Linked DNA regions of Homo sapiens: regions 2 and 3 are each linked to region 1. Evidence: fine-mapped expression QTL. A gene starts in region 1. Each other region holds a variant in brackets. All regions are shown on one strand. Distances are from middle to middle.

Region 1 (7,766 bases):
ACATCACGCCACTCTAGCCTGGGCAACAAAACGAAACTCTGTCTCCAAAACAAAAACAAAAACAAAAACGAAAACAGATAATATCGATTCTTGCAAAATATAATAATTAAGAAATTTAATCCTTTATCACAAACCCTCGTAGCAGAGCAGAGCTCCCCATATATATGAGTATTGTACCTAGGCTGGACGCATTCCTCCTCTTACTTTTGGGAATGTCCCACTCTGTCTATGGAGTAGCTGTTCTTTCACTACTTTATTCTCTTAATAAACTTGTTTTCACTTTGCACAGTGGACTCGCCCTGTGTTCTTTCTTGTGTGAGATCCGGGAACCCTCTCTTGGGATCTGGATCGGGACCGCTTTTGTGTAACAAAGACATGGGAAAGAAAAATTCACGTCCATAGCGAGCTCTGTCACAGCGACATCGGACAGTTGGGAGGGCAGGCGTTTCATCGGCAGTCTCCTAAAGAAGGAAGTTCTGCTGTGTAGCTAAACTGGAAGGCTCCTCTTCTGCAGTTGCTAGTTTGGAGACACTTTTCTCTTCTCCTGCCTTGCACACTGGAGAGGATACAGGTTAATCACACTGACAGATACACTGGTTCACTGAGGGGTAAGGGTTATTGGGGAGCATGCATGTGGACATTGCAATGACACAGTGATGATGCTCAGACAAATGAGGTCACACTGAGACAGGAAGCATCTCCATGAATTTCTATATAGGTGGAAAACTGCATAAGCAACTAGTGCAGGAGACAGAATGATCCAGCACCAGTGAAGTTGCTGTGGTCCCGGGCAACGAGTATGCCTCAAAGGTAATCCCCATTCTGATATTTTCCACCATTGATAACTTTGTCGCATTCTTGGACTTCATCTAAAGGGAATCATGTCATAAACACTGGGCGTCTGGCTTCCTTTGTTCTGCACCTTTGTAGAAGCCCTCCATGCCAAAGCATGCATCAGCAGTTAGTGCTTTTGGGTTGCTGTCTAGTATTCCACTATACGAAGAACCAAGAAATCTTTATCTACTGTTGACTGGTATTTGGATTATTTCCCGTTTGGAACAGATATAGATAAACCTGTTATGAACATTCTTGAACATGTTTGACTTGTATATTCTTGACTTTTTAATGTGGAAATTGAGACCTCAAACTCACTATACCATAGGGGTGGAATTCCAGCAATTCTCTGTACAACCCCTGCACAATTCCAAGAAGAAGGCAAAAGAAGAGAGACGTGGATATTTTGCTTAGTTAGCCGTCTTGAACTTTCCCTTATTTTTATTCCTCTGCTTTTAGGAAATCCCACTTGAAAAGTAGCTATTTTCTCCTTTGCAAGTCTATCTTTTTCAACAAAAATCTTAAGCAAAATATAAAAAGCCAATACCAATTGATTCCTAAAATGAATCTATCAAGTTTCACTTTTTTTTTTTCCTGAGGAAGCCGAGCATATTGACTCATTCTAGACCCTAAAAATATGCCTACATCCCATCTATTAAAAAAAAATGCAAGAGGGATCTGTGGGCAGGAAGATGGCTGAAACTCCCTTCTCTCCAGCCAGCCCCCAGCATGATGCTTGCTTTAAAGCCTGGAGCATGATGACACACACCTCACCCATGTGGAATATCTCTCCAGAGCCAAAGGTAAGGTGAGGCAAGTTTTCACCAATATTTTGATTTGTGATGCTGAAGACATGCACTTAAGCACTACAATATGTAAATGGTTTCCTACTTCAAAAAAAAAAAAAAGAAGCGATGCCAATGATTTTAATAGACTTAGCAAAACAACTGTAAGTCTACTACACAATTGAACAACTCTAAGCAGTCCTGATGATGCTACAGAATTCCGTTATACTCTCCTCTTCATGTAAGTGGATTTTCTAACCTGCCAATTACGGCTTTCCATTTTCTTCCTGGAGTTATACATCATGCGAATCTCAGATAGCACTGTCCTTGGAGCTGTTTTCTTGCCAGTTCACAGTGCCACCTGTGGCTGAGCACTGCCTTGCTGGGCATGCATTTATGTTGACCTGTTTTCACTCTTGGTCCCGGAAAACTTCAGCCTTCTGATACTACCAGCCCAATGCCCAAGTTTCCTGGCAGCTTTATTTACAGTCACTTTAAAAGACGGAAGGCAGATTTCAATTTTATGGATTGCCAATAAAGTAAGATTTACAGAAGTTCCCCAGACCACTGGGAAAATTACTGGAGCCCACAGCTGCAACAGCACATCCCCAAGGGAACATGCTGGAGAGTGGCAACTTCTCCTATCTGGTTTTAAACGTCCCCAACTCCTATACATTCCCTTCCCAGGCCCCTTCCAGGCAGAAGAGGGGACTGCAGTTTCCATACTGCTCACACAAAATTAAGCATCTCTTTCCAGCCAGCTCCCAACAGCCTCCCTGGTAAGCTGGAAAATCAGCTTGGGGGATCTGAGTTAAGAAGAACAACAAGAAGAGTGAGGTGGGCAGAGTTTGGATCCACAGGCTCAGGACTCCCGTCCTGGGCATATCTGGATCCCCAAGGCTGGCAAAATTGTATACCAAAGGATGCTGCGGGGTAAAGAGGGAAATAGATGACATTTTAGATTTTTTTTTCTTCTGAAATGTCTGGACACACTGCCCAAAGCATCCACATACAAAGAAGGTATTTCGTATAAAGTCATTTATAAAAAACAGACACTCTATAAGGCAGTGATAGGCTCAGTTCAGCTCAGCGAACAAGGATGGAGCTATGGCTTGGTCACAGGCACAGAGCTGGTGCTAGGTGCAGAGACTCAGGGATGTATAGGCAAAGAGGTCTCACTGCCCACTGATGTGTCTGGAGAGGTGGGTGGGTGAAGGGACTTTCCATTTGTCCTCCCAATTTCCTCTCCGAAGCCTGTCCCTTCCCTGGGGTCCACTACTTCTCTGACCTTTCCTGAGAAACAGACTAATAAATGTGGCTACTTACATTTTACATTACATTCTAGGAGCAAATCCAGGGGGCCAGGAGCCCTGCACTCGGCTGGCTGCTTAGTCCCTGGCCCAGACCCCAGGGCCTGACAGGCATCAGAGGGGCCCCTGGGTCTGCTGCTCTGAGCTCAAAACACCCAATACTCTTTGGTGGGTGGGAAATTAAGGGCGGGGATAGCTCCGTGTGCATCCTAGGTCTTTTCCTCTCCCAAGAGAATTCTACTCTGCCACAAAGGAACTCAGCCTCTGCGCCCTGTGGCTTCTGCTGACGGGTGGTGTGTGCTCTGGATGGGGGGTAGGGTTCCTGGCTAGGAGTGGCAGTGGCGCCTGCTCTGGAGTGTCCCTAAATGTCAGCATGCAACATTACCAGGCAGGCCCTCCCACTTCAGTCCTCAGGCCACTCATAGGACCTCCTGTCCCCATGTAGAGAGGCTGACACCAGGTTGGAGCCAGCACTGAAAGGATCCCCGAACTCCTGCTTCTACAAGGCAGCATCCGCAGGTGAGCGGCCAGGCACCTACAAGACACGCACCCTTCAAGCCTGGCTTCCCAAAGCCCCGCCGGGCCAGGCTGGCTGGCACAGCAGACAGTCATGCAGCAGGGTCCCCAGCGACCCCCCATCCCTGAGAGAACACACGGAGTCCCCCGCCCGCCAGCTGCTCCGGAGGCGGCTCCAGGGTAGACTCAACAAGTTCCCGGGCCATGCAGCGCCGCCTGCAGCCCAGAAACCCGGAGGACGCGCTGTGGCGGAGCCCCGCGCGCAGGCGGCAGCCGGCGGCAGCCGGCGGCAGCTCCTTCCACCTCCTCCTCCTCTTCCTCCTCCTCCTCCAGCTCTGGCGGCGGCGGGAGGGGGCTCCTCCACTCCCTCCCTATCCCCCACCCCACGCACGCGGCCCGGCCCGGCCCGGCCCCGCGCCGCCCCCGCCCCACCTCCGCCCCGCGGGGCCCGGGGCTCCGCCCGCCTCGGTGCCAGCCGGGCGCACAGGCGGCAGGCGCGCGGCTTGGGGCGCCCTCGCCTCTGGCCGCCCGGCTCCGCGGAGTAGCTGGGACCTGGAGCAGCGGAAAGGACTTCCCTCCTGCTCCCTCCTCTGCCCCGCCCCCGCCTCCTGGCCCTGGCTCTGAGATCTCGCCGAAGACAATTGCAGTAAATGAGGACATCGGAGGAGCGCGAAGCCGGGTGGCTGTGGCTGGCTCCGCCGCGTCGCGAGCAAGCGAGCGCGCGGGCGTCCCCGGAGCTGGCCCAGCCGCTGCCTCCCCGCGCGCGTCGCTAAGCGGGGCCGGAGGGACGCGAGCGACGCGAGCTGCGGCGCGGGGGCCGGCCGGGCCAGCAGGGCCGGGCCGGCAGCGGTGGAGGGGGCGGGCAGCAGGCGCGCAGCGGGCCAAGTCCCCGGAGCCGAGGCTTCCTCCGCGTGAGCGCGGCGAGTCTGGCCGCGGATGCCCTGTCCGGAGTGCTCCGTGCCGCCCCAGGCTTGCCAGGGTCCGCAGCGAGACATGCCCGAGCCAGGCGCTGCATCGACCTCGACTTATCTGTAAGCAGCGGAAGGTAAGCGGAGCCCCGCGTGCCCTCCTCCCGCGCCCCCGCGCCCGTCGTACTTGGCCGCGGGCAGAGCACCGCTGGGACGGGCGCCGACCCCGATTCGGGCGCACACACTCGGCCCCAAACCGGCTTGGCCGGAAACTCGGCGGCTCCCGGGGCCGGGACACCCCGGTGCAGCCGGGAGCGGACCCGGTGCGGTCGCAGGTGGGGGGCAAGGTTATGCAACTGCATCTGGCGCGACCGGGTCGCTGAGGGGCGTCTGGCAACTTTGGCGACGTCAGGGAGGAGCGGGGCTGCGCCTCTGCGATGTGGGTTCCAGACAGACGCCACAGCTTCGTGAGCGCCCGACAGCCCTAGCCAGGCAAAACTGGGAGATCTGGGGGCGGCCGTCTCCCCGGAAGGTTTCGAGGCTTTTAAGTATTTTCCAAACTAAAGCGCCCTGGAAAGTACAAGTACGGCTGATTAACTTCGGGGGGGGGATGAGTTGGAACAGAGGGGCCCTGACGCCGGCCGTTGAGGAGAGGCGCGAGCAGCAGTGAAGGCAGATGCCCACGTGAAATGCTCGTCTCCTCCACTCGCTGGGGTTGGCACCTTCCCGGGGCTGCGGGTTGGGGTCGGCGCCGCGGGGCTTCCCGGTGCCTGGCAGCCCGAGTCAGACCGGGACAGGCGTGGGAAACCAACCAACGCTGCAGACCTAAGAGACTGCGAGCTGGCGGGCGAGGGCAGGAGGGAGGAGGGAGCCCGCGGGCAGCCCGGGGTCGGGGCAGCTCCTGGAGCCCAAAGTCAAGAGCGAGAGTCTGCATCTTGCTGGTTCATGCTCAGGGCTCCAGGCTGATGTCCCCACTGCTTGGATAAAGAGCCGCTCCCTGTGACCTCAGCATTCTACTACCCAAAAATATGCCACAGGGAGAGGGAGCCAGTGATAAAGAGATGCCAGGAGTGGGGGAGGAGAGGTGCCTCTGGAGTAAATAGGAGAGAAAATGGGTGCGTTTTGCTTATCTACAGCCCAGGGCTCCCGCCCGGACCCCTCTCCTGCTGTTGGTCTGTGCTGGGGAGCTGCACGCGCTCTGGGCCCCTGCGCCAGAAGCAGCGGTGAAGCGGTTTACTTTGACCTTGTCTGCTTAGGCGCTGAAATTCTGCGGAAGCATCCCGAGGTGAAACTGCAAGAGTGGGAATGAACTTTGGGGGAGCCCTGCCTTGGCTGGGAAGCCAAACGATCATTTCAGAAGACTACAGCTCAGGATAGCACAGGGTAGACGTCTGTGCACTTGAACGCTCCCCCCTCAACGAGGACTTGCTAGAGGGTTACCTTTCCATGCCTTATCTCAGTGGGGGGACTGTCAGAGTGACTGCGCTGGCTGGGTACTTGATGAAAAAATACCACTCACAAGACCCGGGCCATTCCCAGAGTAGTACATACATGAAAATGATATAACCCTTATTAAGCTTACGCTACAGCAAGTTACCGTCATTTCACTATGCAGAGGCGGAAAGTGCTGGTTTTTACTATTCCCCCACACTGTACTATTTCTTACATTCATATCCTGTTGAATGTTACTTTTGAAAGTTCATATTTATCTTTGCAATTTTTTTGCAAGAATGATTAGCAAACATGCACAAGGAGCTCAAAGAAAAAATGGAAGTCCTGCCATCTGCATGCCTCACCAGATATTAATCATTTACTATCCATGTTTACTACTTACATTAGATGGCACTGCTCCTCACGATGGTTTTATTAGAGGCGCATTTGGTTAAGGAAAAGAAAAAGTCTAGCACAGCTATCACTAATTGCATGATTTTGCATAAATTACATTAGCCATGGAGAGTTTTGTTTTCTTCACTAAATTCATCATTTTGTTTAAAAGACTAAACAATTCAGTTTAATTTCTTTAGCTAAATGAAAGACTTTTCCTTAAAGACAAGATGTCCTTGAAAAGCTACATATGTCTTTAAACTTATTACAGTTGCCACGACTTTGTATTTTATCATTGTGATTAAGACTTTGAGCTTTCATGTAAGTCAGGCCCTTTATCCTATTAAGAAACAGAATTACTGGTTAAGAAATAGGCTAACAAGGCAAAAGCTGGGAAGCTCCATGTCTGCACAATGAGATTTCTGCAAGCTCTATGGGAGGCTGGGTACTCTATTACTCTGTTTACTTCGGGGGCTTCTCTGTTTTGCCACAGTTGTTTTCCCCTGTGGCAGGAAAGGGAATTTTTGTGTTTTGTTTCTCCCTCTGTAGGGAAAAATTTTTAAATAAATCAATAAATAAGAGAAAGACTTGTACGTGAAAGGCATTCATCTACAAGGAAGACTCCTACACACTGAAATAAGCAGTCCAAAAATCAAAATGATTCTCAGAAATAACAACGGATCGCAGTGGAGTGGCAGGACAGACCCGTTCACGTAGACATTTGTATTCTCTTGTTTGCGCCCAGCCATGGCTATCTCATTTAGAGACAACTACTGAACTCTGGAATATGAGAAGCAGGTGACTTATGCTTCTCAGAGACTCATGATACAGAAATGATCACAGCTACCTCCCAAAGCAGCAGCTCTGTGGTCAGATATTTACGTAGGAGGGCAGTGACAGGTTCACCACGGATTTTAACGCTTGTGAAGGATGCTGTTCAACGCGTCCATAGCATCCAAGAAGCTCAGTTGGGAAGGCAGGCAAATTCTACATACTTGAGGCAAACCACCGTCATTCTGGGAGTGTGAGGTCATAAAAACTCCCCAGATAAAACCAGTGTCATCGTCATTTTCAACAGTCTTTCATAAATGTGAAGCACCACAACCCCTCCCCACCATGATTCCACTGGTTGGAGACCTACATTCCCCAACCAGAAATTAGCTGGCATGATTTATGAAGCAGATCCTTTTTTGTCTCACATATTTGATTTTAATATTTCATAACATTATGGGGTGACTTCAATATTTTAAAGCAAAATTTAATATGATTGATACTACATGACGACACTTTCATTACCATGAAATTCTCATACAAACATTGAGAGAAGTCTTTATTCCAATACTGGAGCTAACCTATGATATATATGTAGTGAAACTTCATGACTTTTAATCAGTTTATTTAAAATGTACATTGTTCTTATACATTAAGGACAGAATACAGACTTGCAGGAACCAAACTATAGGGACCCTGACAGGATTGCTGTAAACAAGTTGTTTGGACAATGTCTTGTGTTAAGCACTAAGCCATGAAAGGATAGGTTTGAACCTTTGGACCATGTGTGATAATGTGTCTGTTTCAGATCCTGAAGG
Region 2 (7,766 bases), 160 kb before region 1:
ATCGTTTTATCCCTCACTGTTGAGACATCACAATGCTAAATAAGCCCCCAGAAGGTAGAGACTGGCTTCTCACAAGCACTCAATTTATGTTTTTAATTTCAATGGTTTTTGTTGGAAATCTTGGTATCATACCTTCCTGGGTCTCTGTCGCTGACTTAGAAAGATGCTAGCGCAGGATCACCATCAGGAAATCTGGCGACTGGGCAGAGCAGCTGGCAGCTGGGCCTGATGTGGTGGCCAGCCCCTCCCCCTCCTGCTAGTTGTGGGTTGGCCGCCATTGTGCTCACCCCAGCCGGGGACCCCATATCCTGTGGGTGCGTGGCTGCGGTACTCCTGAGGATCAGGGTGAGCTCCTAAAGAGCTTGAAGTGAACCAGGCAAGTTCAGAGAGATGGGAGAGGGAGGAAACCACAGCAACTGCCAAGCTTCTTTCACTGCCTGGACACTGCACCTCTGGAATGAAGCTCCTGGAAGACTCCTTTCTAAAAATGGGGCTGCGAACCTTAGTTAAGGTGACATAATGAAACTCAGAGGCAGGTCCTATCAAAAAGGTGATCTTTTAAAAGCTGACCCTCTTGTCTTTCAGAAATCTTGATTTTGTTTTCATTTCACCCCACTGCAACTAAAACCATTTCATTTCCAACATATAACAGAAGAATGCCTGAGAAATTAAATGTTTGAATAAAATATGTGCAGTATTTTAACACCAGCAATGTATCCCGAATTAACCAATCTTATTAATATTTCTACACAATCAGGAAACCAAATTCTTTAGTTTTCTTTGCAACTCAGTGAATATACATTTCTGTAAAGAGAATCATTAAAGAAATGTGGCTACTATAACGATACTTAAGAGAATACGTAATCCTCATAATTAGACTGAATTACTTTTTATTGGGTGGACATACACACAAAATGTAATTAACATCTTATTTTCAACTTTTACTAAATAATTAATATTTTGACTAAGGCTATCATTGTGTGATTCTCACCACTTTCCCAAATGCTTAATGTTTCTGAAAGTCCTGTAACTGCTGCAAAGCATTCTCTTGAAAATGCTATTATATTCCATCTCTCAGGTGACACTTTCCTTGTATTATGCCTAAAAAATGTCAGAGCCAATGTTTCAGAAAACAGATGATGGTGACAGCGAGTTGTTCATCAACCACAATTTCAGCGTCATAAAGTTCTGTCTGTCACCAACAGGTTTTATTGTTCCAAGCTGGGAAAAACATAGAAAGCAGTCACAAGTGGTTGTAGAAGCAGGGATTGGAAAAAGAAGCTACCAAAACGACAGTAGCTTAACCTTTTATTATCACCCTCCTTATTAGTACAGAAGACACACTGGCCTGGAGCTGGTACTGGGTTCTATGGATAGTGACAGCCCTGGGCACTGACTCTTCGTAAACCAGTGGTCCCCAAGGTGAGCAGGAGTGGGTGGGGAATGTTCTCTGGTAGCCACCTTTTTTTTTTTTGACATTTGCATTATAGATTTCCCCTGGAGCATATCTTGCTCAAATTTAATGATGAACTCAGGTTTGGAACCAATGAGGACCAAGGTGACTCCTGCAGTGTAGACTTAAAGAAAAAGAGGACACACTTTTGAGCCAAAGGAAGGTGACGAGGAGAATATTTTACTTCCAGTCCTTGCCGGTCTCATAGCCCATCTAGAGTCTATTTTAGTTACAGAACGTGGAGCTCTTTCCCCTGGGAACAACATCTTGTTTTCTCACGAAGCCAAGGCCTCCCTAGTCAGAAGCCTCCCTGTGGGTGTTTAAATTATCTCTTTGCAATCACTGGTGTTCAAAAATCTGGGACATTAAACATAGACTTATCCCAGAAAAATCTCTGTATACACAAGAGCAGGCAGAGCAAAAGCTTCCACCACCTGGCCACACCCATTAGGCCACAATGTATACGGGTTTTAATGAAAAGCACACAATTTGCCCAGTCGCCAAAAAACACCCATGAAGGGAATCCCTGCATGAAAAATATCCCAAACCCAACGCGGTGGATAAAGATCTTGCTCCAAGCACATTCGTTCTGGCTGGCTGGGGTCTAGTGCTCGCTCCAGTGTGCTGGATGTAATAAACAAAATGTAAATTGAGGCGGCACAGGCAAGGAGATCAGGTGCTCCGGCAGGCTGCTGCACAGAGTGCGCTTTGATAAATAACTCAGGAGCTGGGTAAATAAGCACATTTTCCCCCCTTTTTTCTTTTGAGAGAGAGCCTGCTTTTGATTTCCCCTTTCAGACTCAAAATATGACAGGTTTGGGAGGGAAAGAAACACATCACTCTGTCCCATGGGGCAGTGCCATGTTTGCCCTTGCATTAAATTGAGCAAAACAGACCCCAGATCCTTGCTCTGAGGCTGGGCAAGGAGGAGGCAAGAGCTGAGATGCTCCTCTCTATGGGCCATGCATACTATTGGAAAGACTGAAGGAGGAGACTCATGGAGCATTCAGCTGAAGGTCTGCTCAAGTGACAGTTTATTAATTGTAAGCAGATAAATAGATCTGATTTCCATTTCTATTTTCTTGGCAGAGTCGGTGCTATCATCCTGCCAATATGTTCCCAAACCTGCACCCATTTACAAAAAGTAAAATTAAAATAAAAAAAAAAAAACTATGTAGAAAGTAGGTTGTATACATCCTGGGAAACTGAGATGTGCTGTCATAAATTTGGAGTGTGACAGCCTTGGCAAAGACACTCAGGCACCTGGCACCATGGCAGGAAGGAGGCCACCCCGTGGTGCTATCCTTAGCCATCCTGAGGGGCTGCTTGGGGAGGATCCTGTGGGCTGCAGGTGCTTTTAAGATCACCTCCCTCACTTTGAAAGATAACTTATTTTACCAGCAAGGAACCCAAGTCTGGTGGCTGACTGTTACTTCTTGTTGTTTCCAAGTCCCTGACCCTAATTGGCTTTGGTTTACTTTTGACCTCTTGGCCGCTTCTCAGGCCACAGTCAGTGTTCCTGGCTAAAAAGCTGCAAAACACACACCTCATGCATTAATCACCATATTCAAATCAGCCACTGATAGGAGGGAAGGGGGGAGCTTGCTCACTTCACTGCAACCTTTTCCAAATCAAAAGTCTCCTGTCGCTTGACTTGGCCTATCTGGAGCATGACAGATAACGTCAAGAGAACCAAGTGCTCTGTGTCAGACCCAAGTGTATCCTCAGAAGGCCAGGCCTGCCCAAGCACTTGGAGAGGGCACGCGGAGAAACTCACCCTTTCTGGGCCCGCCTTTCCTTCCTTCATTGTTATCATGGCACGTAGCACAAATTGAAATGGAGCCACTTTCAGTGGTGATCAATCTCAGGGACTACAGAGGTGACATTAACTATACTTGCAAACAAAAACAAAAACAATCCCAAATCAGAAAACTAGAAAGGCAGGAGCACCCATCAGTCAGGGTGACCTCTGGCCAGCTGTGGCTCGAGCTGAGTTTTAGAGGCTCCCTTGGTGCTAGGCAATGACCTTGGCACATGGAGAGCAGTGGAGGATCCTGGGGGTGCTCAGGGGCCAGGGTGAGTCAAATGGTGGCTGCAGTTGTGTACGGGGAGAAGGAAGCATTTCAGTATGTAATGACCCATCAGACCCTCCGCTAGGGTGGTGTCTCTAATTATCATAAATGATGTGAAATGTTACCGAGCCATTCCAGAATGAGAACCTTCATTTGAAAGTATATGTGCAAGTGTCCTCTTGGGGGAAATAGGCAATTCCCTGTCTATACTTTAGAGTTGAAATGGAACAACACAGAAGAAAATGGACTCACTCTTTTAGGAGGGGCCAGGGTAAAAGATGGCCTCAGAGAGAGCCTGTGTCCAGAGAAGAGGTCTGGGGTCTGCCCTGAGAGCCCAACTGTGGCAGGTGGAGCTCATATCACCTCCTTCATGAACG[T/C]TGGTGCCTATAAAAGTCCTGGACTCACTGAGTTCCAACAGAGAACAGCCCCCCTCCATGCCATTGCTGTGAAAGCCCTCCCCCGTCTCCTGCCTCTCTCTCTCTCTCATGGGACCACACTGGGTCCCTGCCTGGTGTGGGGCCTGCCGTCTGGCCTAACAGAGCAAATGACAGATGCATCTGTCAGAGCAGGATTTTAACAAAGAACACAGAGAGATCAATTGGAATGAATCACGGATGGTCCTCCTCCCTGTTCTAAAAGCCTTAGCACGTTATTACTGAGATCATCGTATATATATGTCATAGAATTATTGAGTTTTGGAATTGGAAGGCTCTTGAAAAATTCAGTCCAACCACTTTATCTAACGGCCCAGAAAGACTGAGCCATGTGAATCAGGCCTCACGGGGAGGCAGGAGTGGGAGAGGATGAAAACTTCAAGGTGGGACTTATCATCTCTCTTGACTCTGAGCCTAGAGCCCCTACCTTCCTCCCTGGGATGGCAGGAAGGCCAAGGACAGGATGGTGCCTGGTAGGTATCATGTTGCAGAGATCAGCAGGCCCTTTGACAGCTGAGACCCAGTACTCAGATTCTGGACATAGGAGCTACTGCAGCAAAATCATGTGCAGAGACCTAGCACAGAGCTTCCTCGAGGAGTCCTCCACTGACTCCAGGACTGACACGCAGAAAGGATGCAATGGTGCAGGTTCTCTTTGTACTGGGAGGGCACAGGCAGACAGGGCCACTCTGACCCGCTCTTCATCCCCACCCAGGAGCATCTGCTGTGGCTTTCCATTCCTGAGAACCTAACTGGGCCTCATGTCAAACCAAAGAATGGCAAGGAAGATGCAAAAGCAAACAGTGAGCTAGAAGTGAAGCGTGGCTCGCTGGGTTCTGCTTCTTTCTTGCCATGCTCTCCAGCCACTGCAGGGAGTCACAGCTGCTTGGGAAGTAAGCAGGCTGGGGTGCAGCTAAGTTGTCCCAACCCTGGTGCAACAAGTGAAACCCTAATGCTACGAGGCTAACAGAGTGATGCGGACAGACCCCTGCCTCCTTCTAGTAGGAAAAGATTCTCTGAGGTAGAGGGGAGAGTGGAGGGTTTCTTGCAACAGGCCAATGCAGGCTTCTCGTGTCCATTTGAAGGAAGGAAGCAGAGGCCTGGAGATCCTGGGGCAGAAAAGCAACTGATGCTTTGCTCAGGACTGAGGCAAGGCCACCAGCACCCCATGGCCTAGGACACCTCGGCACAAAGCAAGCCCGAGGGCTGACGGCAGGAGCCAGAGAGAGCTTCATCTCAACGAGGAGTGAGGCCAGATTCCTAGAGGGTAGTGTAAAGATGCTGGGAAGATACCAAGTTATTGTCAGTCATTGATTTCTTGAAGGGGCTTATCTATAAGAATTACATGTCACATTGGTTAAAATTTTAATAGAGAATTTATTCTTACTGTTCATGATAAAAGTAGTTGGAAAAAATTACTTAATTTACAAATAAACTCCTATTAATTTCATATACACACACAGACCCTTCACTGCTTTGAGTGCAGGAGCATGTTAGGCTGCCACCAGGTAGATCTGGTTTTGAGGAGGGGAATTAACCCTTTAGAAGGCAGAGTCTGTAAAACTGAATATGGTAAGTGATGGCAAATGTCACAGCAGGATGAGCTTCCTATTTGACGCAGAAGGAACTGAGGCAACTGAGGGAGGGAGGCAACACCAGGGAGGGAGGAGCTCCAAGCCACGTGTCCACACAACACAAGAGGGTGCTCTGTGGATTTTTCTTTTTGCCCCACCCGTGAGATTTTCTTTCCTTGCCTTTGGTCTTCTATCTCTTAATTCCTGAAAACAGTTACTACAAAGAGTAGCAACTGCTGTCCAAGGAACAGAAGCCATTAAGATCTTAAGACATCCCAACACTGATGAACACGGCCAGTGCCATGACCCACCAGGGATGCAAGATATTCACTATGCCCCCACATCCAGGCTACTCACCAAGGTTGTACCACATGTCTCTGATTTCAAAGCCAATCTGTCTCCTCATATCTCCGTACCTGGAAATCAGGGAAAAGAAAAACGCTGAATCACTCCGGAAGGCATTTGAAAATCGGACTGGAATTATTTTTAAGTGCAATTAAAGCCTTCTAGCACTGAGGCAAATAAAGAGAGTGTCAAAGCTTCAACTTCTCTTGCCACCAAAATGAATCAAAGGAGGAGGAATCTAGCTGGGGGAAATCTCACTTTCTCATCACTGAGGGTTACACAACATCTTCCCCCCGGTGGGAACGTGGAGGAACTTGTGGAGAGTCATGAAAGCATTTCCCTTTCTTCAATCTCTTGGCTCCTGGGCCCAAGGGGGAGCTTGGTTCCATGCATGTCGTTAGCGTCTAGGCACTGCAGACACCACATAACATCCTACTGCACACAACAGGTTGCTTTCCAAAGTTAAAATTAAATCCAGAGTCAGGGCAGACCTCTTCCAAAGTTCTTGCATTCCTCTATGTCATTTTAAATGTAAGGAAGGGCTTAACACCAAAAGATGCCAACAAATCTTCCACTGTTTTTGTTTATCAGGGAAAATAAATGCTAATTTTCCTCTCGATGGGTGCATAGAGGAGGTGTGTGTTTCATGAGTAAACAGAATTTGATGCTCCAGAAGATAAACCTTTATTAGTTTGTGAGCAATTTAACTTTTTCTTTTATTGCCTAAGGAAAAAGCTGATATTAAAAATAATAATTTGCAAAATTATCATACAGGATTACAGTTGAGCAGCTGTGTCATCGAGCCTGCTCTGCTCATCCTCGTGTCAGGAGATGTGAGAAGGAAAGCACTGATTACAGAAGAGCGCACTGTGGTTCTTGAGGCGAAGATCCTGGCCGGTAAATCAACAACCGCGGCCAGCTGCCACCTTATTAGAGAAGACTCTGGTGCCCTAAGCACCTGTCTGTCACTCACGGCATGAGTGGGCTACAGCCAAGAGTGATCATCTCAACCACAGAAGATCAATCTCACCTGGCAGCTCTGCTGTGGTGCGTGGGAGGCCATGCGCCTTGGCCCACAGTGCTGGTGAAGAAAAGGAACTGGAGCCTAGGCCACTCCCTACCAGGACACGCTAGCTCTAAGCGCAGCCCTAAACCAGGTGAGCACTGATGCAGGCAGACTCGGTTAAGGAGGGGGCATCTCAGCTGGGGAGACGGCCCAGCATTGAGGCCATGGTAGGAGAGGCCCGTCCATGGTTGGGGAAAGCACGCAGGCAGCAAAGCTACTGGACTTGGGTGGGTGGGAGAGAGGAAAGCGCCCTGCATAACTCACGCCCCCCAATTGCCCAGGAAACACACGACCTGAACACTGCTTGGAGGCTTGTAGTGCTGGCTCCCCCATTCCCATTTTGCTCCTGCACTAATGACAAAGGGATCCCAGCAGCTGCTGCGGCCAGGGCTGGGAAAGGATGCAGTTGGCTGCAGGGTGACCTGGCAGGCTGACGTCCTTGCAGCATTTCCCAGGGGTGGGACACACAGAAAGCAAAACTGTGGTGAAGCCCTGTTCTAATCTTTCCTCTGAGGTTGGTGAGGTTCTCGATGTGCAGGTGGGTGAGTCCCCTTCCAGCCAAGCAGGGGTTGGACAAGCCCAGGAAAGTGGCATCAGAAAGAGGTGGCCCCCCTGAACACAAACACCCCCTGCGCCCATGTCCCCCAGCAGAGGTGAAATGCTCACAGTGGGATCGGCCTAGCATGTACTGACCCACTCAAGCTCTGCACATGCTTCTCACATCCCAGCTACACAGAGTTCTTCTCATTCTGGGATGATTCCCTCAAAATAGGAAGGCCCAGGCCAGGTGCGGTGGCTCACGTCTGTAATCCCAGCACTTTG
Region 3 (7,766 bases), 20 kb after region 1:
ATTTTCACCTCAAGACAGCACAGTCCAATGAATTCTAAAACACAATTTTCTTACGAAAAATAAACTTTATGAACTCCTGCTGCTTTAGAGCCAAGAGATCAGCTCCCCAAACCAGAGTCCATGGTTCTCTAGGGTGACCCAGCCAAGGCAAGCCATCATGAAGAATCCTATTGCAGCTTCATGCTCAGTCCAGAATTCAAGGCAACATTCACTCAGTGCTCCAACACCCACTGTGTTACCGGAACTACCTGGATGTCCTTGCCTAACCAGCACCCAGATACACTGTGGGAACAAGACAAGGGCATTGCTCAGATGAGTTTCAGTTGTTTGATGTTTTCAAGTTTATCATGGATCACTTCAAGTTACAGAGTTCCTTGAGCAGGGGTAGTGGGTTAGGGCATGTGATTCAAACGGATTCAGCTGTTTCAATGGGTGTGGCCCACTAGCCTCCTCACTCTGAGCAAGTTGCAAAAAATCCCAAAATCGTGTGCCTCGGTTTCTCAATCTGCAGTATGAGGGTATCAATAGTGGCTGCCTTGTAAGGATATGATGAGGATCAAATCTAGAAAACACAACTGCTATGCATAGGGGAATGGTGACATTTGATTAGCACATAGGAGCACTTAACTGCATGCTTACTGAATGTTAATGCTACACTGTAACGTATGTACATTCACTTGCTGAATAAATGCATGAAGGAATGATGAATGAAATAGTGTGGGAGAAGGTTCCACTTGTCTTAGGGAAAGTCCTCTGTAGAATGCCCCATTTCCTTTCATAACAAAATCATTTTCTTAATGGTAATCACTGTAAGCCTTACCCTCCACCCCCAATAAAGAGCAAATGAACACCCCGAAAAGATGTGTCCACCTTAGTAATTCTTAATGTCCAGAAATTCAATTTTAAAGCTTTAGAAAATGTCATCCAGCCGTCAGAAAGAACTCATAACCTCATTTGAAGCCAAAATAAACCAGCCACAAAAATTCCTTGGTGTTTTCCCTATCAGAGAATAAGAACTCAATTACTATTACTGTTTTTTAAGTCAGCAATAACAAACTAAAGTGATTAAAAATCCTAAGTATTACCATCATTTTTTTACTAACAACGAAATGATTTTTATGTACCAGCAACCCTCTATAAAACAGAGAAGAGCTTAGAATTTTTTATTATTATTTGGCCACCAGCAATTAATTCTTCTGATTTGTTGTATTAGTTTGATGGTTGCGTCCAAGACCTAGAATATTTCTTACCCCAGCCAACTGATGTAAGAAAATTATTTCAGTGCAGTCCCTAGCAAATGGTGATGATGAATAGCATGGCAGGACAAACTTATTCAGACACACATTTTTCAGAAGTAGCAGGGAAAAGGCTGATAAATTACTAGTAAATTGCTTTTTGTAAAAATGCTCTCTCTTTCAAATTTTCCCTAGTATGAAGGTCTTCTGCAGAATGATGGCACAATACATTCTGACATACCTGGACAACAAAGGCAGTTAAAGAATGAATAGGAGATCAGAGTGAAGGTTAAGATTTAATTTTCTTATTCCACCCCCACTGCTACCCATACTGTCCCCCACACCAAGCTGTCTTGTGTGCATCTGTTTAACCTGCTGGGATAAGAATCTCTAAAAGCCATCGATGCTTTCTCCTGAGCAGGCACGCCTTGTCCCTCCTTCCACCTATCATCTAGCCATCCCAAACGGGGCCAAGATATTGGTGCATCTCCAGTCTGTTTCTTGCCTTTTCTCTCCTCTCTAAAACTGCCCAGTTTTTCAAGTTTCAAATTGCAGCAATCTCCAAATACCCCCAGCACCTAGTAAAGCACCAAGGACTTCCTTTGCTGTCTACGCAAGCCTCACCTTTCAGGACACACTATAGGATAATCGAACAAGAGCCCGAGGCATCCAGAGGTGCAAGGGCTAATGCAGTGGTTCTCTGCCAGGCAAGACTCTGCTCCCAGGCTCATCTGGTAATGGCTGGAGACATTTCTAGTTGTCACACTGGGAGGGAGCGGTGCTACTTCTTCAGTGGGGAGAAGCCAGGGACTGCTGACCACCCTGCACCGCACAGCAAAGCCCCTCCAACAGCAAATGATCCATCCTGAAATACCAGTAGTGCCAGGATTTAGAAACTCTGGTCCCACCTAAATCAAATGCTGCAGAGATTGTTTTTTGTTGTTCTTACACATGATTACCTGTTAGTTGTTCATAGCATAATGTATGAAGAATTTGATTCCTTCACTCTTTCATCCAGTGAACAGCAGTGGAGGCCAGCAAGGTGACAAGACCAGGCTGGCCTGAGACATAGAGGTCATTTTAATAGAGGGCTAGTCATGTCACTTACTTTTAGATGGTGGCTGTGAAGTTGTCTCTTCTTCCCCCTTATGGAACCACCGTGCACCTCGGCCTGTCATGCTAACTCAGTAAGGGCTAAGGATGTGGGGAGGGGTCATGCCTCTGTCTGTTGGACAGCTGGGTCTATGAGAACAGCATGGATTCAGCGGTCCACTAAAGTAGGGTCCTGCTCCTGCCTGCGCTGCTTATTTCCTGTGTGACACCGAAAAATGACGCAACATCTCTGAACCCTAGTATCCTCCTTGAAATGGGAAGTGTAGCCTTGACCTTCAGGAACATTTGTAAGCAAGGCATTCTGTATGTGAACGAGCAGAGCATCTGGCACTCGAACCACCTCACTCCAGAAGCAGTGGCCATGCTGCGCATGTCATAGTTCTTGTGGCATTTTCCAATGAGTGCTGCCACAGGTCTCTGGGCTGGTTTTTCAGACACCCCCAGGACAGGGCACAAGGTCGGCAGCTGGGCTGGGGGCAATGTGGACGAAGTCTGTTTCTGTGCAGCTCTCACGGGCCCATGTCCATGACCTTGCCTCTCTGGGCACTCAGCTCCAGCCACTCGGGCCCCGTACACCCTCAGTGCCTTCCGTTTGACTGTTTTCTTCTCAAACACAAGGGGGGAAAAGGCGAAGCCTCACTCACAAACAACACACTTAACTCTATTTTCTTGCTTTAAGCGCAGCCATCAAATAAGTTCTTCCATGTGCAATAAACAGCTGTGAATCCGCCTAATAAAGTGAAGGCATTTTACCCCACTGGTATTCCCCGAGAGGAGTCATTGGCCACCTGCATCTTTTTAGCTGCATTTAATAATTCAGCCCAGGATGAATTTGCATGATTAACATAAAGCCTCATAGTTTTATTTGCTTTCAGAATTTAAGTACTGAAACCACCACCATTGTTTTCATTTTCGGAGGTTGTGATCACAACACAAAACTTGATTCTAGAATGAGTAATTTCTTTTATTTTTTTTTTTAAGAATTATTTTCCAGTACCACTCTCCATGGAATAAAAGGAGTTGCAAACATGGCCTTTGTAGATGCAGGGAAACCCACGTTCCTTTTAGAGCTGATGTTAACCCATGAGAAGCGACCACCCCTCGACGACTTCTCCTTCACGGTTCCCACCCAGGAGCACGGCCAACTCTCCCCCGGAATCCATAACGGCTCACGCAAATAGATTTCTTTCCGTTCCTCCTCGGAGGGCTCTCCACATTTATCTGCTCGAGACGTGGCAGCTCCAGTAAGTCTTTAAAACAGCAGCTCTCCCAGATTCCAGCAATAGATTAATGACGTCATCCTCAAAAAATAGTCAAAACGCAAACCAAATAAGTAGCACTTGGTAAACCATCTGCCTAAGAAGGGGAGTCACGCGTGTGAAAAGATAATTTGCAAAGCAGAAGAGGCAGCATCATTGGGTTTCTTGATGAATGTAGTAAAACAGGTTTGTCTAATGGGGAAACATGCATTACTGTCAAAAGGAAAGCGAGTGTATCCCACCTGGAAAAGCAAGCAGGCTTTAATATCTGAGAAGCATTTCAAGCTGTGCTGCCAGCGACTCTCAGCCCGTGTGATTTTCCTTAACATAAAGGCCGACCTCACCTGCTTAAATATAATTAGGAAACAGGCAGTCGTCGTGGTGGCTAAAAGTTTGTGCGGCCGGTGCTTGAGTGTGTATTTCTGTCCCACTGACACCTCTGTTGCTGTTTCTGAATGCAGGAACCATGGTCAGTAAGGACACCGGCAAATGCATACTCACAACGTCGGAGAGTGAAGTGGAACCCGCCGCCTGCCTGGCCCTGGAGATGAAATACGCCCTGGACCCCAACCGGCAGATTAAAAAACGGAACAAAGCCCTGCAGGTGCGGTTTAAGGATATCTGCGAGGCACAGAATGAGCAGAGGGACACACAGCTGTCCTCGGGCCAGCTGGGGGAGAAGCGGGAGGCCAAGCCCGTGTCCTGCAGAGCAGCCTACCGCAAATACATGACAGTGCCCGCACGCAGGTCCATCCCCAACGTCACCAAGAGCACAGGCGTGCAGACCTCGCCCGACCTTAAGAAGTGTTACCAGACGTTCCCTCTGGACCGCAAAAAGGGGAACCTCAAAAGCCTCCCAGCTGCAGATCCCTTTAAAAGCCAAAACAATGGGTTTCTAACAGATG[C/T]GAAAGAGAAGAACGAGGCTGGACCCATGGAGGAGGCCCGGCCATGTGGCGCGGGGCGGGTGCACAAGACCACAGCCTTGGTTTTCCATTCCAACCAACACATGAACACAGTGGACCAGCCTTTGGGGGTCAACTGCACAGAGCCCTGTAAAAGCCCGGAGCCGCTCAGCTATGGAGAAGCTGCGCTCCAAAACTCCACTCGGCCTCCATCCGAAGAGCCCGATTACCAGCTGCTCGGGAGGGCCAAGCAGGACCGGGGGAGGCCAAACTCCGAGGAGCCCGCTCCACCTGCCCTCAGGAGGGTGTTTAAAACGGAGGTTGCCACCGTTTACGCACCTGCCCTCAGTGCCAGGGCCCCCGAGCCTGGTTTGTCAGACTCTGCAGCCGCCAGCCAGTGGTCACTCTGCCCGGCAGATGACGAGCGGAGGAGAGCCACACATCTCAACGGGCTCCAGGCGCCCTCGGAAACTGCCCTGGCCTGCTCACCCCCGATGCAGTGCCTGTCCCCCGAATGTAGTGAGCAGCCGTCGCAGACTCACACCCCGCCGGGGCTGGGGAACCAGCCTAGTCCCACAGCGGTTGCTGCAGGTGAAGAATGCCAACGAATCGTGCCTCATACGGAAGTGGTCGACCTCAAAGCACAACTTCAGATGATGGAGAACTTGATCAGTTCAAGCCAAGAAACCATCAAAGTGCTCTTGGGGGTCATTCAGGAGTTGGAAAAAGGAGAGGCCCATCGGGAAGGGTATGTATGTTCACCCATGTCTTAGGAAGCTATGCAGGCTGATCACCACAGAGTCCATCTGTAGCCCCAAACCCAAGTCTGTAATGAGACTAAAGCCAGCATTTCCGTAAACAGGTCATAGTCTAAGGGCGTGGCGAGCTCCAAGGGGTCGCAGATTATTTTATGATACTAGACGTCACTGCATCCTGCACGATACGCTTTCTGGTTAATGTTCATCTTTCTGGCCTTGAATTCAAACCATACCTATGCTTAGAATGAATTGATAGACCTTTCCTTTTATTCTGCTAGGGCTAAAGGTTTATGATATTGATAATGTATAACAACATATGCCAGTCCAAAATATCTATTCTAAATAAGAAGAGAATCAGGAAGAGAAGAGGCCACAGGCCTCTTAGGAATCGTATTAGGAAGAGAAAGGAAATTTCATGTGACATTTGGAAAAGTAAATGCTGACTTGCTTATAATAAATAATTGAAATAATATTGGTATTCAGGACTGTACAAGGCTTTACATCATAGACAGTGTGTTTTCCATTCTGTACCTGGAACCCAAAGAAGCAATGGGCATTGTGAGACCAGTCCTGACTGTATATGATTAGGAGACAGATGCCCTTCCCCACGGGCTGCCCTATGTGTCCAGTGGGGCTGCAGAAAGAATGATACTAACTTCACGGCCAATACTTTATTGCGTTGATAAGACCATCTTGCACTTCATGTTTTGAAGTTTAAACTGTGCAGCAGCATCTTTAAAAACAAATGACCTAAAGGTGGGGTTTTAGTTCTTGAGCTCCCCAGTGCGGAAGCCTCCTACAGGCCGGCATGTGCTCAGCTGATACAAAGCAGCCTGTTCTACTCTGGGTCTGGGGGTTATCGGACTTCGCCTGGATTGCCGAGACCTCTCTTGCCCATTGCCCCTTGAAAGTGTCTGTGTTCCTGCTAGCCTGTGTACTGGAGGTAACATCGGAGGCAGCGCCCTGTTGCCTCATGTGATGTGCACCCTTCACTCTGCGAGCCCTGAGCCCTGGGTTTAGCAAGCTAGAAGCCAGCCTGAAATAAGCCAAGTAATGTATTTCCAGGACAGAAAACCACCTGGGCACAAAGTTTCCTTAAGAGGATTGCTGTGGCTGAGTTAGACAGTTTGCTGACTGCAAAGAATGGGGAGGAAACACCTCCTGCCTTAAGGTGGAGGCTGAGGTGAAAGGCCCAGCTCCAGCAGTGGAGAGGCTGGGGCAGGTCCTGCCCTGGGCTCTGGCTGCTCCAGCTTGGTGCAGGAGGCCTGTCTACAGCTTGATGCTCTTAAGCAAAAAGAACTGCCAGCCAAATGTACAAAAATCTTAACAGTAGATTCATAGGTAATCTAACACCATATAACATTTCCAAAAGGCCTTGTTCAATCTTGGGTTTACATCTCCATTTTCATCCCATTTCCATCAGTACAGATCCAAAAGCAACACTCATCAGGCGTGGGGTGGGGGAGACCAGTGATTTACTGATCAGTAGTCCACATTCCTGCAAAAAAATTAAAAGGTCAAACATTGACCCAGTCACTGATGTTGATATAGTTGGTAGTGAATTAAACCAGACAGCAAAAGAGAAAGATGCCAACATCTTTGGTGAAATAAAGTTCACCAAATGGTGTAAAATGAAATATGTACACTAATGTGCATACTCACAGGAGTGTGTGCCCAAAGAAGAACCTGAGAGGGCTGAACACCCACGAACACAAGAAAGGAAAACCGTACGATATATGGGAGCGCCTTCTTACACTCCTCTTAGAACAAGTATGGAAGATTGCTTTAAATAAGATCCTCAGGGTTCTCTGAGATGCCATCCATCTAGCAGTGTGGTTCTCAGTTTACTAAGACATGTCTGGGTAGGAATCTGGCACTGAGGGCTTGGGCAAGGGCTGTATGTCTCTGTGCCTTCTTTCTTCACCTGTAAGTTGAGATCACTGTCTGTCCTGCAGACAGGGGATGGAATGACATGGGGTGACCTTCTAATGTGTTCAGCCTAGTGGCAGGTGTGTCTGAATGGGTAGATGTCCACTAGTGGCATGAGTGTTGATCTTGCTGGCCAGCAATGCTGGAGCAGGGGTCTGGGGAGGACTTAGTGGTCTTGTGGGCGTCCAATGTGATGAATGCATCCCCTATATGCCCGGCACACAGGCTGCCACACAAGACTGTCCCTGAAACTCTGGAGCTGCTCTATCCAATACAGTGGCCACTAGCTGCACGTGGCTATTGAAATTCAAACTCAATGACAATTGAAACTTCACAGTCACAGCAGTCACATTTCAAATGCTCGATAGCCACATACATAAGACAGTGCAGCTACGGAACATTTCCATCATCACGAAATGTCATTCACTCCGGTATCCCAGAACATGGCACAGTGCCTGGTTCTTAAGCATCTGAGGACTTGGGCACCTTAAATCAAGACAAAGGATGGTTTTACTTTAAAATCAATCCTAGTTCAGTTGCTGCCAGCACAAGCTCACGGTGGAAGGTAGA

Evidence for each region. PIP is the estimated chance that this variant, and not a neighbour inherited with it, causes the effect.
Region 2: its variant is the best candidate, but not a certain one, in a credible set for the expression of INSYN2A in testis (GTEx, PIP 0.63).
Region 3: its variant is the best candidate, but not a certain one, in a credible set for the expression of INSYN2A in blood mononuclear cells (TOPMed, PIP 0.68).

What each region holds. Positions count from the first base shown.
Region 1 is chr10:127,192,721-127,200,486 of GRCh38, reverse strand. It overlaps INSYN2A (inhibitory synaptic factor 2A), which reads left to right and starts at 3,896. Exons shown (of 6, transcript NM_001039762.3): 1 at 3,896-4,490; 2 at 7,757-7,766. The region is part of intron 27 of DOCK1 (dedicator of cytokinesis 1); the gene reads right to left.
Region 2 is chr10:127,352,852-127,360,617 of GRCh38, reverse strand. It overlaps DOCK1 (dedicator of cytokinesis 1), which reads right to left. Exons shown (of 52, transcript NM_001290223.2): 32 at 5,891-5,949. Among named protein-coding and RNA genes, the nearest start is that of INSYN2A, 160 kb to the right of the region's middle. The variant T/C (reference allele first, on the strand shown) is at 3,903.
Region 3 is chr10:127,172,703-127,180,468 of GRCh38, reverse strand. The region is part of intron 27 of DOCK1 (dedicator of cytokinesis 1); the gene reads right to left. INSYN2A (inhibitory synaptic factor 2A) reads left to right here. Exons shown (of 6, transcript NM_001039762.3): 3 at 3,330-3,592; 4 at 4,069-5,257. The coding sequence starts at 4,074. Among named protein-coding and RNA genes, the nearest start is that of INSYN2A, 20 kb to the left of the region's middle. The variant C/T (reference allele first, on the strand shown) is at 4,513.